Homo sapiens: one gene and its partner. The protein of the gene in region 1 interacts with the protein of each later gene in a biochemical or structural test. Each region holds a gene or a part of one and is shown on either strand. Other genes may lie near its edges.

Evidence for each region.
Region 2: the proteins of SCTR (region 1) and CPAMD8 interact in a test that uses a peptide from one of them, tested with the Homo sapiens proteins (one study listed by BioGRID).

The regions. Positions count from the first base shown.
Region 1 is NC_000002.12:119,521,217-119,528,659, forward strand, and holds the start of SCTR (secretin receptor precursor), read right to left. Parts: upstream 3,268-7,443; 5' UTR 3,011-3,267; coding exon 2,939-3,010; intron 1-2,938.
Region 2 is NC_000019.10:17,023,599-17,031,032, forward strand, and holds the start of CPAMD8 (C3 and PZP-like alpha-2-macroglobulin domain-containing protein 8 precursor), read right to left. Parts: upstream 3,213-7,434; 5' UTR 3,186-3,212; coding exon of another isoform or gene 3,045-3,185; coding exon 2,953-3,044; intron 2,878-2,952; exon of another isoform or gene 2,646-2,877; intron 2,535-2,645; exon of another isoform or gene 2,416-2,534; intron 1-2,415.

The DNA of each region.
Region 1 (7,443 bases):
CCTTGAGTGACTCTTTCTCTACAGCCTGACACATTTCTGTACAATTTAGCAAGTAAGGAGTGCTTTCAAGAGGTGATTCTTCCTTATTTGTTGCTGCATCAGCATGATTTCATTCAGTCATCCATGCATTCATTCAACAAACACTCACTGAGCTCCTTCTTACACTGTGACAGACTCTAGGGATGAAAGATGAACAAGATGAGTCTCCATGTTCAAGTTCAAAGTGTGCATATTGGGGTTTGGGGGACAGATGTGTTAGTAAATAATTACAGTAATGTTCCAGGTAAAAGTTCTCATGAGATGTATGGGGGTGGGGCCGCAGAGGGGGCTGTGATCAGTATTTCTTATAGGGAGGCCTCAGAAAACTGCCCCATTCGGCCACTTTTTGGGTTTCACTTACAAGGGTCACTTCTGACGCCTCCCTATATGGAGTAGAGGGAGAGCGGTAATAAGCAATTTGGCCTCACTGACCCCCCTCCATTGGGAAGATGCCTATAATCTCCCTCAAGGGGGAGCTTCAAATGAATAAAAAATTATTTGAACACACTTAGATTTCAAAATCAAATGTGTGACCACCCAGAGTCAAACAGAAGGAAAGCAGGGCTCCAGAGGCTGGGAAATATTCCAACCAAAGTAGGTCAGTTCCACTCCTATTTATTACAGGAGTTCTCAGCCAAGAAGTGTGAGATCTAAGGTCTACAGAAGCCGTAAAATAACCCAAGGACCACGACTTATACACAGGAAACCATCTTGTGATTATGTAAGGCAGTAATGCACATTTGAAAATACAAGGGACCGCCGGGCGCGGTGGTTCATGCCTCTAATCGCAGCACTTTGGGAGGCCGAGGCAGGCAGGTCACCTGAGGTCAGGAGTTTCAGACCAGCCTGACCAACATGGAGAAATCCCATCTCTACTAAAAATACAAAAAATTGGCCGAGCATGGTGGCACATGCCTGTAATCCCAGCTACTTGGGAGGCTGAGGCAGGAGAATCCCTTGAACCTGGGAGGCGGAGGTTACAGTAAGCCAAGATCGCGCCACTGCGCTCCAGCCTGGGCAACAAGAGTGAAACTCTGTCTCAAAAGAAAAAAAAAAAAGAAAAAGAAAAAGGAAATACAAGGGGTATAAAAGACAGAGCCCTGGATGGTTGGGAATCAAGAGATCTGGGTGCTAACCTTAGTGGGTTAAGTGGGGTATGTGGGGCGAGTAGAGCTGCTAGTCCCGGCTCTACTACTAACTTGCTGATCTCGGGCAGCTCCCTTCTCTCTGAGAGTCTCAGTGTGCTCATTTTTAAAATGAGGGATTGGGACCATAGCATAATGAAGCATCCTTCCAAGGTACACTGAAGACTTAAACCAAGTGAAGCCTCTCATTTTCCCCTTCCATTTATTCCTGTGATAATCCAGGGATTTCCTTGAGATAAAAATGTAGGCTGAACCTCAGTCCTGCACTCGAGGTACCAGTTACGACAGTCTCAGAGTCACTGCAAATACTTAAGAAGGAGGCTGGGAGGGTCCCAAGGAAGGAGCTATTGCCTCTCCCACCCCCAGCCACGGAATAACACACCTTCTGGCTCTACCTGGCTTTGCACTGTCCCCAGTATCCCAGTTGGCATTTCTCCAAATTGGGAGTCAAAACTCATGAGTGCATGCTGTTGCTCTAGCGTCTTCCAAGGCCAGCACTGCCACTGAAGAGAGGAGGCTCCACGGTGGCAAGGGAGCTCCAAGCAAGCTCCAAATTGCACTCATCCCAACTACTGCTGCTGAAAGTCTTGGGGCTACCAGAAAAATGAGCATCTCCTGAGTGTCAACACTCTGGTCGGCTCCGGGAGCATTGGTTTTCCTTATAATCAAACCAGAGGAGACTAAGGGAAGACAAGGAGGCTGGACACCATGAGACTTGCCCAGGACAGAGATCAGAGACTCAGTTGGGTCCCCAAGCGCGTTCCCTGGGGAGCTTCTTGGAAGAGACGACTTGGGGACCAATTTGGAATGCTAGTGGGAAGGGATGATTCTGGAATCTGGCCCCCACCTCTAACCCCCACTCCCTCCCCATTCCTTCCTTTCTGCTGGTCTGGGTGGGGCCACTCTCTTTATCAGAGATCCCGGAGCTCAGAGAGGCCCGGGACTCCCAGGAATTTCTGTTGGAAAGAAAAACAAACCACCCATCCTGCCGCTATTATTATTATTATTATTATTATTATTATTATTATTATTATTATTATTTTCCTCCTCCAGCCCCTTGCCAGGACCTGGCTTTGGGGAACAGCAGCGCCCTGGAGCCACCAGGCACGCAGACATTAGGGAGCCGCATCCCACACGAGACGGTGTGGGGAGAGCGGCAGGCGGTCCCATCGCAGACCCAGAAGCTCCTGCCAGAGCTCCCTCAGGTTTTCCCATCCGCAGCCCGTGAGTGTGAAAATGTCAAGGTTTGGGGGCAGACTGATACTGATGTGGGTTCCAATCCTCTTTTTCTGACTTGCAGCAAGAATTTTTATTCCCCCTCTCCTCTCCTTTCCTTTCCTTTCTTTGTCTGTAAAGTGACGGTGATAATAGCAGCCTCGAAAGGTGATTACCAGGTTTCAAGGAAAGATTGGAGGCAAAGCGCCCAGGACACAGTAGGCACTGCCACGGGCGGCTCCAGAATTTCCGTGTAGGAGAGTTTCAGAAGCCAGACCAGAGGAAGGGGTCGGTGGTGGGCACAGGGATTCATCTTAGAGCCGCCTTCGTCTGGCGCGCACGATGTTTTTCTTTGGGAAAGGGTCCCTCCGGAGAAGAGCTGGGAGAGATTAATGTTGGGAGGATTGGGAGGGAAGAGTCCCTATTCCTCATGGGAAGATCTGCTAGTCCCTCTCCACCTGCATCCTGCCCGAGGCCGGAGAAAGGGCGAGACTGTCGCTCCCTCGGGTCCCCAGCCTGCAGAAGGGCGCAGTACTCACCGAGTGCGCGGCGCAGGCGAGCAGCACCGGCAGTAGTAGCTGCTGCAGCGGCGGCGACAGGTGGGGACGCATGGTGCCCGCACGTTCCCCGAGGGCGCCCCGACGTCCGCCTGCCCGTGCCCTCTGCCCGCTCGGGAGCTCAGCGCCCCGCGCAGGGTCCCGGGCTCCGGCCGGCCGCTGCGCCCCGAGGAGCCATGGCTGAGCCACCCGACCTGCGGCGGGCCCCGGGACTGCTCCTCCTCGGACCAGGTGGCCGCGCGCGCTAAGCCGCCCGCCCCATTGATCAGGACGCGGCTTTGCCGGCGCGCCTCCTCCACCCGGCAGGGACTGGCGCGGGGTCGGCGCGGAGGCTGGCAGGGGAGGAGGCAGAGGGAGGGCGCGGGGACCCGGAGTCGGCTCCCGCAGGCTGGGCCCAAGCTGGAGGAGGCCAGGAGAGGGCACGCTGGCTTAGCCTTCTACGCGGCAATCCCGCCCAACCCCGGGTCCGGAAAGAGCACTGTCTCTGGAGTCCACGGACAGAAAGCGCAAGCTCGCTGGGGGCCGGTGGGCAACTTAGGTCACCTTTGTAAGCCTCGGCTTTCTCATCCCTAACAACACGTCTGATAATACCCACTCTCGGACTGAAAGTTGTCACACAGTCGAGGCCCATTGCATCTATTCCCCCCGATAGCTACCTTGCACTTTATTTCCGATTTTTTCATTATTGAAGTCATTAGCGCTAATTCCATGAAGTTTCACTCCCATGAACTCCTCCTTTGATGATGACCAAGGAGGATCTGTGGTACACTCAGGCATCTGGGGACCGTCCTGAGGATGAACCCCCTGGGAGGCTATTTAAGCCTCAGGCAGGTAGTCCCAGTAGCCCTCTCCATCGGTGCTGTGTATCCTGGAGGTTTGCTTTTGGCCTCTTAGTACAAGGCGTCTCTTAGTACAAGACGTCCTCTTAGTACAAGGCGTCTCTTTTGGCCTCTTAGTACAGGGCGATGGCCCTTTTTTACTGTTACATAAAAAAGAGAGTCTCACCATGTTGCCCAGGCTGGTCTTGAACTCTTGGGCTCAAGAGATCCTCTCACCTCGGCCTCCCAAAGTGCTGGGATTACAGGCATGAGCCACTGGGCCCAGCACTAGATGGGTCTTGCAAACTCAATTTTCCTTAGTCTGCACTGGTGCCCACTCCCTTCCTTCTTCTCTCTCCTCCTTTCTTGATCTTTCTCCCAGGCACTTTAAGTACATCAGCTCATTTAATTCTCCCTCACACCCCTAGGTGATACGATGTCCATTTGACAGAGGAGGGCATTGGAGGTGGAGGAGGATTCATTACATGTCTGGGTACTGCAACTCAGAGGCTCAGACAGGAAAGCCTGAATCTACCCTTACATGGCTGACCCGACTCTCTGTAACTGGCCCTTACGCAGAAGGCCATGCAGCTGTTAAGGTAACAATGTGTTGTCCTTAGCAGCCTTCCCTACCGGAAGAGACTATTAGTAAATTGAGGCTGGTAAATCCCAGCAGAAATAAAAGGGAGGAAAATCCATTCAGCTCCTAGGTCCAAAACCAATGCTCAGTACACATCAAACCTAAAGTATACATAATCACCAACCCCCTGCTAGAAACTCTTTCTACATAAATACTCACCCAAGGGCCTAATGAAATGTGCAAGGATGTTTGCGGAAGCACTATGACAGTGGCAGGAAACGAGATGATATATGGGGAAAGGGAATCACCCTTATTTCTTTCTTTCTCATGGGCAGCAGTCATTACTATAATGCTCCTGACTTGTTTCTACCCCTTCCCTCTCTCTGTCTGTCTATCCCCCACCTCTCTCTCATGTGCACCCACACGCAAGCATGCATGCAGGCACGTATACACAGGTGAGGCCAGCTTACATGATTGATGCATTTGGAATAAGGAACTGGCATGAGTTCGGTCCCCTCCTCTCTCCTTCCTTTGACAGTGTGCCCCCCTACAGAGAGCCTGTAACTGGATTTCCCTGGGCCAGGCTGTGATTAGTGGTCGAGGCTCTACTGGAACTGGTCCAGTATGAACTGTTGTCTCTCTAATTCTGGGGTTTAGTTAGGAAACCCACTTGCCTACAAGTATAAACCACATTCTGCAATACTGACTTTATAAAGTGATATTTGGCCGCATCTGTCTTGATCTTATTTCTCAATTGGTTCAAGTTTCAGGCTAGAAAGAAAAATGTTATTTCCTAGGCTGCTTGAACCGCAGCACCCTAAATATCCATCGCAAAGTGCCTGAGGTAAGGACTTGCAATTTTTACTATACAGATTTCTGTGTTGTTTGAATGTTTTCTGTAACAACGCTGCGTATGGCTGTTTGGCGTTGAAATAAATAAAAAGAAAACAACACAAAAATGCAATCCGTGCTTTATACCAGAGCTTCGTGATATCTGATGAAAAAACAAAACAACATTAGTTCTGGGCAATTCAATACATTTCTGGCCTGTAGCAAGCCATTCTTGCTTAAATGGGAAGCTCTGCCTCTCAGAGAGTTGAGAAAAGGGATTGAAGTGCTCCCTGAAAGGTCCTTAAAACCTGCCTAAGACAATTTCACAATAGGGGTAGAAGGGAAGAGGTAGGAAAACTAACCATATATTTACCACCTGTCGTGTGCTGGGGAGTCTGTTAGGAAGCTCGGGTGTGTTATCATATCCAGTCCTCCAAGACCATAAAAGAGATGGGAACTTGAGGCTTAGGAAAGATAAGTGCTTGCCTCCATCAGCACAGCTAATAAGGGGAGGAGCCAGGATTTGAATTCAGGACTGAGCCCAAGCCTGTGTCGTGAAGGAAACAAAATATTTCACTCTATTATTTGACATATTTTGAGATGGCTGTTCAGAGGGCCTCCAAACAGAAGTAGCCCTGCAAGGCTGTCTTTTACTGGGGAGATTGCATCTGGAGAGAGAACTCTGCACTGATGCAGCCAGGCTTTCTCTGTGGAACCTCCCATATCCAGATCTAAGAAAGGTTAACTGAGAGTTCAACACCTTAACTGTCTGAAAGACACACACACACACACAATCTGTCCTCTCTTAGGCCTGCTACCTGTGAGGTTTCATCTGCATAACAAGCCCAACTTTACCAGCCAGGCCTCCTCTTCTCCACCACCCCCCAACCTATTTTGCCACACACCATAAGCCCCCATTCTTCCTGTAACTTCAAGATGGAATATGAAAGCGTCCACCCTCTGGCCATTTCTTTGAGTTGTGTTTTGAAAGACTCCTGTGCACATTTTAAAATTTGCATGCCTTTTCGCCTATGAATCTGCCTTTTTTTTTTTCAGTTGATTTTCAGTGGAACTTCAGAGGGCAAAAGGGAAGTTTTTCCTTGGTGCCTAGAGCTCTTTGCATGGTACTGGGATTCCTCTCCAACATGGAGATGGTCTCCTTGTACTTAGGCTTCACAAGCTCTTTTGTGTGCATCTTCTTATTAATTAACAGAGCTCTGTGAGGTAGGTAGGGATGAGCAGGCAGGGGCCTGGCAGAAGAAGGAGAAACTGTGGCTCAAACGGTTTAATCAAAGGGAGTTTAATGAAAGGACTATGTGCAGAGGGTAGGCAGGAACCAGCAAGGGATGGTGAGGTGGAGGGATCGGCAACAGGAAGTCTGAAGGGTGACGAAGACTCTCCTTGACTAAAGTTTAGTCAGGCTCCTCTAGCCCTCTTCCCAACTAAGCTTTGACCTTGGCCCCCCGTCCTGTTTTCAGTTTCCCTAGCCCAGTCTCGGTAAGGATCCTGTGAAGTGAGTTTAGGAAGATCTCCTACTCCACTCTTGATATCTCATCACTTTTGATATCTGCTTCAGTTCCTCATTCTCCACCTTTGATATTTAAGCCCTTGGTCTGCCTTTAGCAAGAATCCTATTTAGAAGGGTTTAGCAAGAATCCTGCCAGCACTGATATCTCCTCTTAGTAATTTTCCATCCACTGACCCTTACCCTGCACCTGGGCTGTAAATCTTCACTTATCCCTGTTGTATTTGGAGTAGAGCGTGATTGCTCCTCCCCATCACAAAGCCCCTGTTGCTATAGTCTTGAAATAAATCATCCTTACCATTTTGGCAAGTGTCGCAATAACTTTTTCTTTAACAAGGGGCAAAGAGTGAAAGCAGTGCTTCTAAAAGCTGGCAAGAGTTGTTCTTGGGAGAGAGGTCACCTATAAGGGCTGTTGGGGCTCAGAAACTGTTACCCCAAAATGTGGCATTTTGACATGCTGATCTGAAGAAGGCTTAAGGTCTATCTGACCTTCCCCTCTACCCCTGCCCAACCCCTGTCTCTCCCAAAGCATAGGACGAAGCTGTTCCCTGAAGTTTCTTTATCTGCCTAAAGTCAGGACCCACCAAGAACAATTGTTTTTCTTCTCCTCTCTGGTATCTCATTATCTATTACAGAAAGAAGACCAAGAATGTAACCATACCTCAACAGACCCTTTTACAAGATGTTTGTGTCTCAGACTCCTTCAATTCCAAAGAAAGCTATTTACAAGTTA
Region 2 (7,434 bases), on another chromosome or scaffold:
TGAGACTGAGTCTTGCTCTGTTGCCCAGGCTGGAGTGCAGTGGTGTGATCTCAGCTCACTGTACCCTCCACCTCCCAGGTTCAAGGGATTCTTCTGCCTCAGCCTCCAGAGTAGCTGGGACTACAGGCGTGCACCACCACACCCAGCTAATTTTTGTATTTTTGGTAGAGACTGGGTTCCACCATGTTGGCCAGGCTGGTCTTGACCTCCTGACCTCAAGTGATCTGCGCACCTTGGCCTCCCAAAGTGCTGGGATTACAGGCCCACTGCACCTGGCCTCAATAGTGTCTCTAGAACAACCCAACATCCACATGCAAAAAGATGAATTGAGAACATTACCTCACACCATGCAATTAGATTAACTCAAAGTTAATCTTAGTAACAGATCTAAATTGAAGAAGTAAAACTTGTAGAAACACTAGAAGAAAACAAAGGAGAAAGTCATTGCATGCTTAGATTAGGCAAAGATTTCTTGAGTAAGATACCAAAAATAAGATCCATAAAATAACTCACTGATAAACCAAACTTCATGAAAACATCATTACCAATTTTGCATCTCAAAAGACGCAGTGGGTTTGTGTTGTTTCATGCACACGAACAATGGGTTTGGGTTGTTTACTGCAGCCCTGGCCACAGTGTGCACTGACCCTGTGATCATAGTGTGCTACATCTGCCTTGAATAATTACCAGAGTTCAGTCCCCTGGGATCACACATGTGCTGTCCAACTCTAGGACCAACTGGAGTTTGCAAGACCCTGGGTATGTGCTGTGTATTACATAACTCCAGCACTGACCAGGACATGCAATTACCCTGTCCAGGTGTCCTGTCCAGCTCCAGCACTGGAATGTGGCATCCTTTAAAAGGGGAATACTCTTTCTGTCTGGCTCCCAGCTGATCCCTAGAGTTTAGACGGGCCTCACATATAGTACATGGTGAGTGTAGAAGAGAGAGTAAGGAATACGTGTTCATTTTGCTTGGTCACCTTTGAAACTCCTGACAATACGGGTTCAAGTCTTCATCCAACTGCCCAGAGAAACTGACATCACCAAATTAAGTTTCCCTGCCATTCAGAAGTTGCAGCTGTTTCCAGCTGTTGGGATGCTTGCCAGCCATTCACTGTCACACCTGACCCACCCCTAGCATCTGGGCCAACACTGCTTCTCATCCTGCTGGTCTCAGAAGGTCCCAGATTGGGGAAAGGGATGTCTGGGTCAGTGTAGACAGAATTGCTCTTACAACTGCAAACTGTGCTGCTTTCTGGGATCAGAGATTCCTCACACAAAAATCTCTCAGGTGACAGAAGTGGGCATCCAGAGCTATTCCTAAGACGAGATCCTTTGGGCTGGGTGAACCATGCCCCTGGCTTAGAGGCCAGCTAATCTGGAATCCCAGGTCGGTCATTTGGGGACATCTCTTCCCCAGTGTGTCTCTCAGCACAGGGATTCCATGTCACTTAACAGATGGTAAGATCACAGGGTGACTTTAGTCAGAGGAAAACGCCCTGGAGAACTGTTTAAAACTCTCTAACGGGCCAGGCACGGTGACTCACGCCTCTAATCCCAGCACTTTGGGAGGCGGAGGTGGGTGGATCACCTGAGGTCAGGAGTTCCAGAACAGCCTGGCTAACATGGAGAAACCCCATCTCTATTAAAAATACAAAAAATTAGCCGGGTGTGGTGGCACACGCCTGTAATCCCAGCTACTCAGGAGGCTGAGGCAGGAGAGTCATTTGAACCTGGGAGGCGGAGGTTGCAGTAAGCCAAGATCGTGCCATTGCACTCCAGCCTGGGCAACAAGAGTAAAACTCCATCTCAAAACAAAAACAAAAACAAACCCCAAAAACAACAAACAACAAACAAAAACCTCTGTATAAGGCAGGGTCTCTCATTGGAGCCAAGGTCTGTCATGTGGGGCCGCGTCATTCCTTGCAGTGGAAGCTGACCTGCACATCGAAAGCTGTTTACCAGCATTCCTGGCCTGCACCCACTTAATGCCAACACCAAATGCCTCTCCCTATTTGTGACAACCAAAAATACCTCCAGACATTTCCCAGCGGCCTCAGGGAGACAAAAATCCCCCCCAGGGCTGAGAACCACTATTCTAAGGGATGCCAGCTTTGAAAGAAGCATTAGGATGAAAATTTGTAGGGTTCCGATTTCACGAAGCCTAGGAGAGGGAAGTCTGGATGCTCAGAGCGCAGTAGACTGTCTTGCTTTTAAAACTGTGACCAGCAAGGACCAACTACTCACTGCAAATAACGACACCCACCTAGTCTCACTGCTTACCAGTTTTCTGGAAACTCCTAAACAAGGGCTGCTTGAACAAGCCGCCTTCTAAACGCCCAGCTGGACTAAAAGGCTGGTCTTGTGCAGACCAGGGCAGCCCCCCTGAACCCGCAGCCCTGCAGAGCTCACCCGAACTTGCCAGGTTTAGAAATATTCTCTGTGAAGCCAACTTAGCAGTACTCCCCAGCAGTTAGTTAATTCACCTTCTCCCCGCTGTCAACCCACCAGAAGCCTGCAAGCAAACCTCTAGAAAAATGTAGAAGCAAAACAAACACTTCCTCCTCCCTCACCACGCCCACCCACGGGAAAGTGCCCCTTCGCACTCTCCTCCCACTTCTCAGCCAAGACGCTCCTCTTACCTTCATACCTTGGACAACTGGAAATCGCCACCCATGATGACAGCCCGGGTCACACGAAGGGGGCGAGGTGGGGCGGGGGGAGCTGACCTCAGCACCTTTAGCTTTTGGGAGTCCCTGTACCTCCACAGAGCCACTTCGGAAACTTTAGGGCGCCCCCTCCTCAAGACGATTCGGGAACAAGAGGCCAGGTCCAGCCCAGCGCGGAGGCTGTGTGGCCTTGGGCAGGTCGCTGCAACACTCTGAGCCAGTACCCGCGACCCCCACCCCAGAAGGCGACCGACCTCCTCTGTCGCCGGAGGATACTCACGGGGCCTGAGGCTGCGCGGCGCGCACGCCGTCCCGCGCCGACAGCAGCAGGAGCAGGAGCGGGAGCAACGGCCAGAGCAGGGCGCCGCTCATTTTTCGGCTCCTGGGGGGCGCCGCGCCTGGGGAGGGGGCCGGGCCAGGGCTGGGCCAGGGCCAGGGTCCGAGCGCGGCCGTCCTCGCGCCGCCGCCGGGGGCCCTTTGTTCGCAGCCCCCGCGCAGTGCGCCCGGCGCCATGCGCCCCGCTCCGCGCCCGGCCAAGCTGGGGCAGCCCCGGGCCAGCCCCCTCCCCGGACCCGCCTCGTCTCCGGGACCGCCCCGCTCGCCCCGCTCGCCCCGCTCCTGGGCGCACCCTCCCGGGACGCCTGCTCCGCCCATCTCCGGACCCCGACCCGCCCCGATCCCTTCCGGGGATCGTCCCCTCACTTACTCACCGGACCCACCCGGGCCCTGCCCGATTCCTTCCGAACCCGCCTCCTCACCCCCTACCCGGATTCGCCCCCGGATGCCCCCCTCCCCACCAGCCCCGCCTCGGACCCGACCCCCCACCGCCCCCACTCTCCCTCTCCTCTCCACCCAGCGTCCACTCGGAACCTGTCCCTTCCCTGGCCTCTCCCTCCCTCCCTCCCCAGCCAGCCCCTTATGGCCCCCTCCCCGGGCCCGCCCCTCACCAGGGGCCCCTGGGTCTGGACGCCGCCTGCAACCCCGATCCCACAGGCGCCGCCGTGCCCTAAGCCCTGGCCTGTATCTAGTGCCCAGTGCAGTGCGTACAGCCCAAGGAGCAGAGGACCCTTTGGGGAAACAGTCTAGCCAGGGGTCGAACCTCCCAGACTCACATCTGCCCCAGGTCCCTATCTGTGCTCTCTGCTCCCCTCTCCCCCACCCCCACTGTCCACAAATCCCTTGGGCCCGTCCCCTCTCTCGCTGGGCCTCAGAGTCCCCCTTTCCCCTTCATACAGCAGGGGTGGATGGGCACCCCCTTTCTCTCCAAGAGCAGGGTGTCCCCTCCTGCCCCTCCCCGTGTGGCCACCTCAGTGATGGTCCTGCTGTCCTAGGTCCCACTGGCAGGCGGCACATCCTATACCATGTCCAAGTCCTGGACCCCCTCCTTCCAGTGTGGAACCCCCTTCCCCCAGCTACCAACTGCCCTTCTTCTAAAATTCCAGTGCTGACCACACCCCCTCCTGCCCGGAATCCTCGGGGCTCCCTGTTTATTTTACATTTTATTTTTATGTTTTGAGACCAGAGTTTTGCTCTGTTGCCCAGGCAGGAATTTAGTGGTGCAGTCACAGCTCACTGCAGCTTCAGACTCCTGGAGAGTAGCTGGGACTACAGGTGCAAGCCCGCACCCAGCTAATTTTTATATATTTTTTTTTAGAAACGGAGTCGCACTGTGTTGCCCAGGCTGGTCTTGAGCACTGGGCTCAAATGATCCTCCCTCCTCAGCCTCCCAAAGTGCTGGGATTACAGGTGTGAGCCACCACATCCAGCCAGGGCTTCCCGTTTATTGAGACCAAATCTAAACTCTGGCTTTGATGGCAGAGACCTCAGCCTAGTTCCTCCAACACCCTGTTCTTACTCCACTGCCTGCTTCTGCCTAATCTCTGTCTTCCTCTACCTGCCTCCTTTGCCAGTCCAACTCCTGATCCTTCCAGGAAACTCAAGGGAAGCTTCTCTTGCCCCCTCCCTGCCCCTAGGGATGTGGGTCCTCTGGGGGCTTCTCAGCCCTGTCAACAGCCTTTGGACCCAACACTGATCACCCAGGCAGCACCAAGCCCTGGGCTGGGCAATGAGGACCCTGGGACATACAGGACCTGCTGCCACTGAGCACACAACCCAGAGGGGACGTAACTGATGATGGTGTGTTGGTGTGTGTGTGTGCGTGCACGCGCGCAGGGGCCGGAGTAGATTGAGTAGCCGTCTCTCCTGCCTGGAGAAGAGGAGGAGCTGCCTGCCTCCAAGCTCAGACCAGGCCAACCCCAAACAGGCTGCTAAACTCACATGGAGGTGCAAAAATCTAGCACCAAGAAGCAGCATCTGATCTCACCCTCATCATCGAAGTTTGCCCCATGCCACCCCTCCGGGCCCCTCCAGGCCAACTCTGACTCCTACCTAAGCCAACCTCCACTCCTCAGCCTCCAGGCCAGCCTTTGAGCCCTCCGCCTCCCCCTTGACCATTGGGCTCTGGCCACATTTGCTCCTGAGATACATCAGACCCCCACCCACCACCACCATCTTGGGCCAAGGTGCCAGCTGTCCCCTCTGCCTGGGATGCACTTCCCCGTGGCATCACAAGACCGGCTGCTCTCCTCCACCTTCAGGGTTAGCCCGGAGGTGCCTTCCCTGCCTGCCTGGTTTGTAAGGTCTAAAATGTCAGTGCTGCCTTGGCATGGTTGAGCCACACAGGACCACGATGTCCTGACCGACCGTTCAGCTACTCTTGCCAAATATGCCCCCTGCCTGGCAAGAGAAGCTGCTCTCCACCTGGCTGTCTCACCAAGCAACCAGACCAGCTGCACCCCACCCATCAGCCACAGACTTCACTTCCCTAGCTGCTGAGAAGTTATTGAAACAAGCCATGCCCAGTCGTGGTGGCTCATGCCTGTAATCCCAGTACTTTGGGAGGCCGAGGCAGGTGGATCACCTGAGGCCAGGAGTTCAAGACCAGCCTGGCCAACATGGTGAAACCTCATCTCTACTAAAAATACAAAAATTAGCCAGGTGTGGTGGTGCACACCTGTAATCCCAGCTACTCGGGAGGCTGAGGCAGGTGAATCACTTGAACCCAGGAGGTGGAGTTTGCAGTGAGCCGAGATTGCGCCACTGCACTCCAGCCTGGGTGACAGAGTGAGACTCCGTCTCAAAAAAAAAAAAAAAAAAAAAGAAAGAAAGAAACCAATCACATCCTCCCAGGAGAACCAGGGGCTGCCTCACCCTCTTATTACTACAAAGCCTGCTTCCCACAGCCCCTGCTTGTTCATTGTGCTCCCGAGTGCAACCCCTGTGTGGCCTCACACAGTGTACAGGGTCCTCCTCCCGTCATTGTGTGAGAATAGGTGAGCACTAAACTGTAGATCTCACCCACCCAATGTCACATGTTGTATGTTTGGCCATCTCATACTCTTTTTTTTTTTTTTTTGAGACGGAGTCTTGCTCTGTCGCCCAGGCTGGAGTGCAGTGGTGCGATCTTGGCTCGCTGCAAGCTCCGCATCCCGAGTTAACACTTTTCTCCTGCCTCAGCCTCCCAAGTAGCTGGGACTACAGGCACCCGCCACCACGCCCGGATAATTTTTTGTATTTTTAGTAGAGACGGGGCTTCACCATGTTAGCCAGGATAGTCTTGATCTCCTGACCTCGTGATCCGCCCTCCTGGGCCTCCCAAAGTGCTGGGATTACAGGAGTGAGCCACCGCGCCCGGCCTATTTTTTTTTTTTTTAACGGAGTCTCACTCTGTCACACAGGCTGGAGTGCAATGGCGTGATCTCAGCTCACTGCAACCTATGCCTCCCGGGTTCAAGCGATTCTCCTGCCTCAGCCTCCCAAGTAGCTGGGACTATAGGCGCCTGCCACCATGCCTGGCTAATTTTTGTATTTTTAGTAGAGACAGGGTTTCACCATGTTGCCCAGGCTGTTCTCGAACTCCTGACCTCATGTGATCCACCTGCCTTAGCCTCCCAAAGTCCTGGGATTACAGGCATGAGCCACTGTGCCGGGCCCATCTCATACTATTTAGAGCAGCAGTCCCCAACCTTTTTGGCACAAGGGACAGGTTTCATGGAAGACATTTTTTCCATGGACAAGGGGCAAGGTGATGGGAGGGACAGTGATGGTTTTGGGATGATCAAGTGCGTGACATTTATTGTGCACTTTATTTCTATTATTGTTACATTGTAATATAATGAAATAATGATACAACTCACCATCGCGTAGAATCAGTGGAAGCCCTGAGCTGTTGTTTTCCTGCAGCCAGAGATCCTACCTGGGGGTGATGGGAGACAGTGGCAGATTATCAGGCATTAGATTCTCATAAGGAGCATGCAACATAGATCCCTCGCATGCACAGTTTGTAATAGGGTTTGGGCTTCTCTGAGAATCTAATGCTGCCGCTGATCTGACAGGAGGTGGAGCTCGGGCGATAATGTGAGCGATGGGGAGAGGCTGTAAATACAGATGAAGCTTTGCTTACTCATCCAATATCAGACCAGTGTCAGTCTGTGGCCCAGGGGTTGGGGACCCTTGATTTAGATCATGGGTGAATAGGAGCCAATGAGGACACTAGCATGGCCCGGTCATCCAGTTTGACTGCATGGTACACAAAACACAGAGCATGGTCTTATTATTCCATACACATCTGCTTCCTGTCTGTCTTCTTTGGGATGTGAGCCCCCCGTTTGCTGCTGGCCGCAGCCCCTGGCTCAAAGTGGGCACACCTCACACAGATTACTGCCTCATCAGCACACGGGAGAAGGCTCGCTGCTTAGAAGAG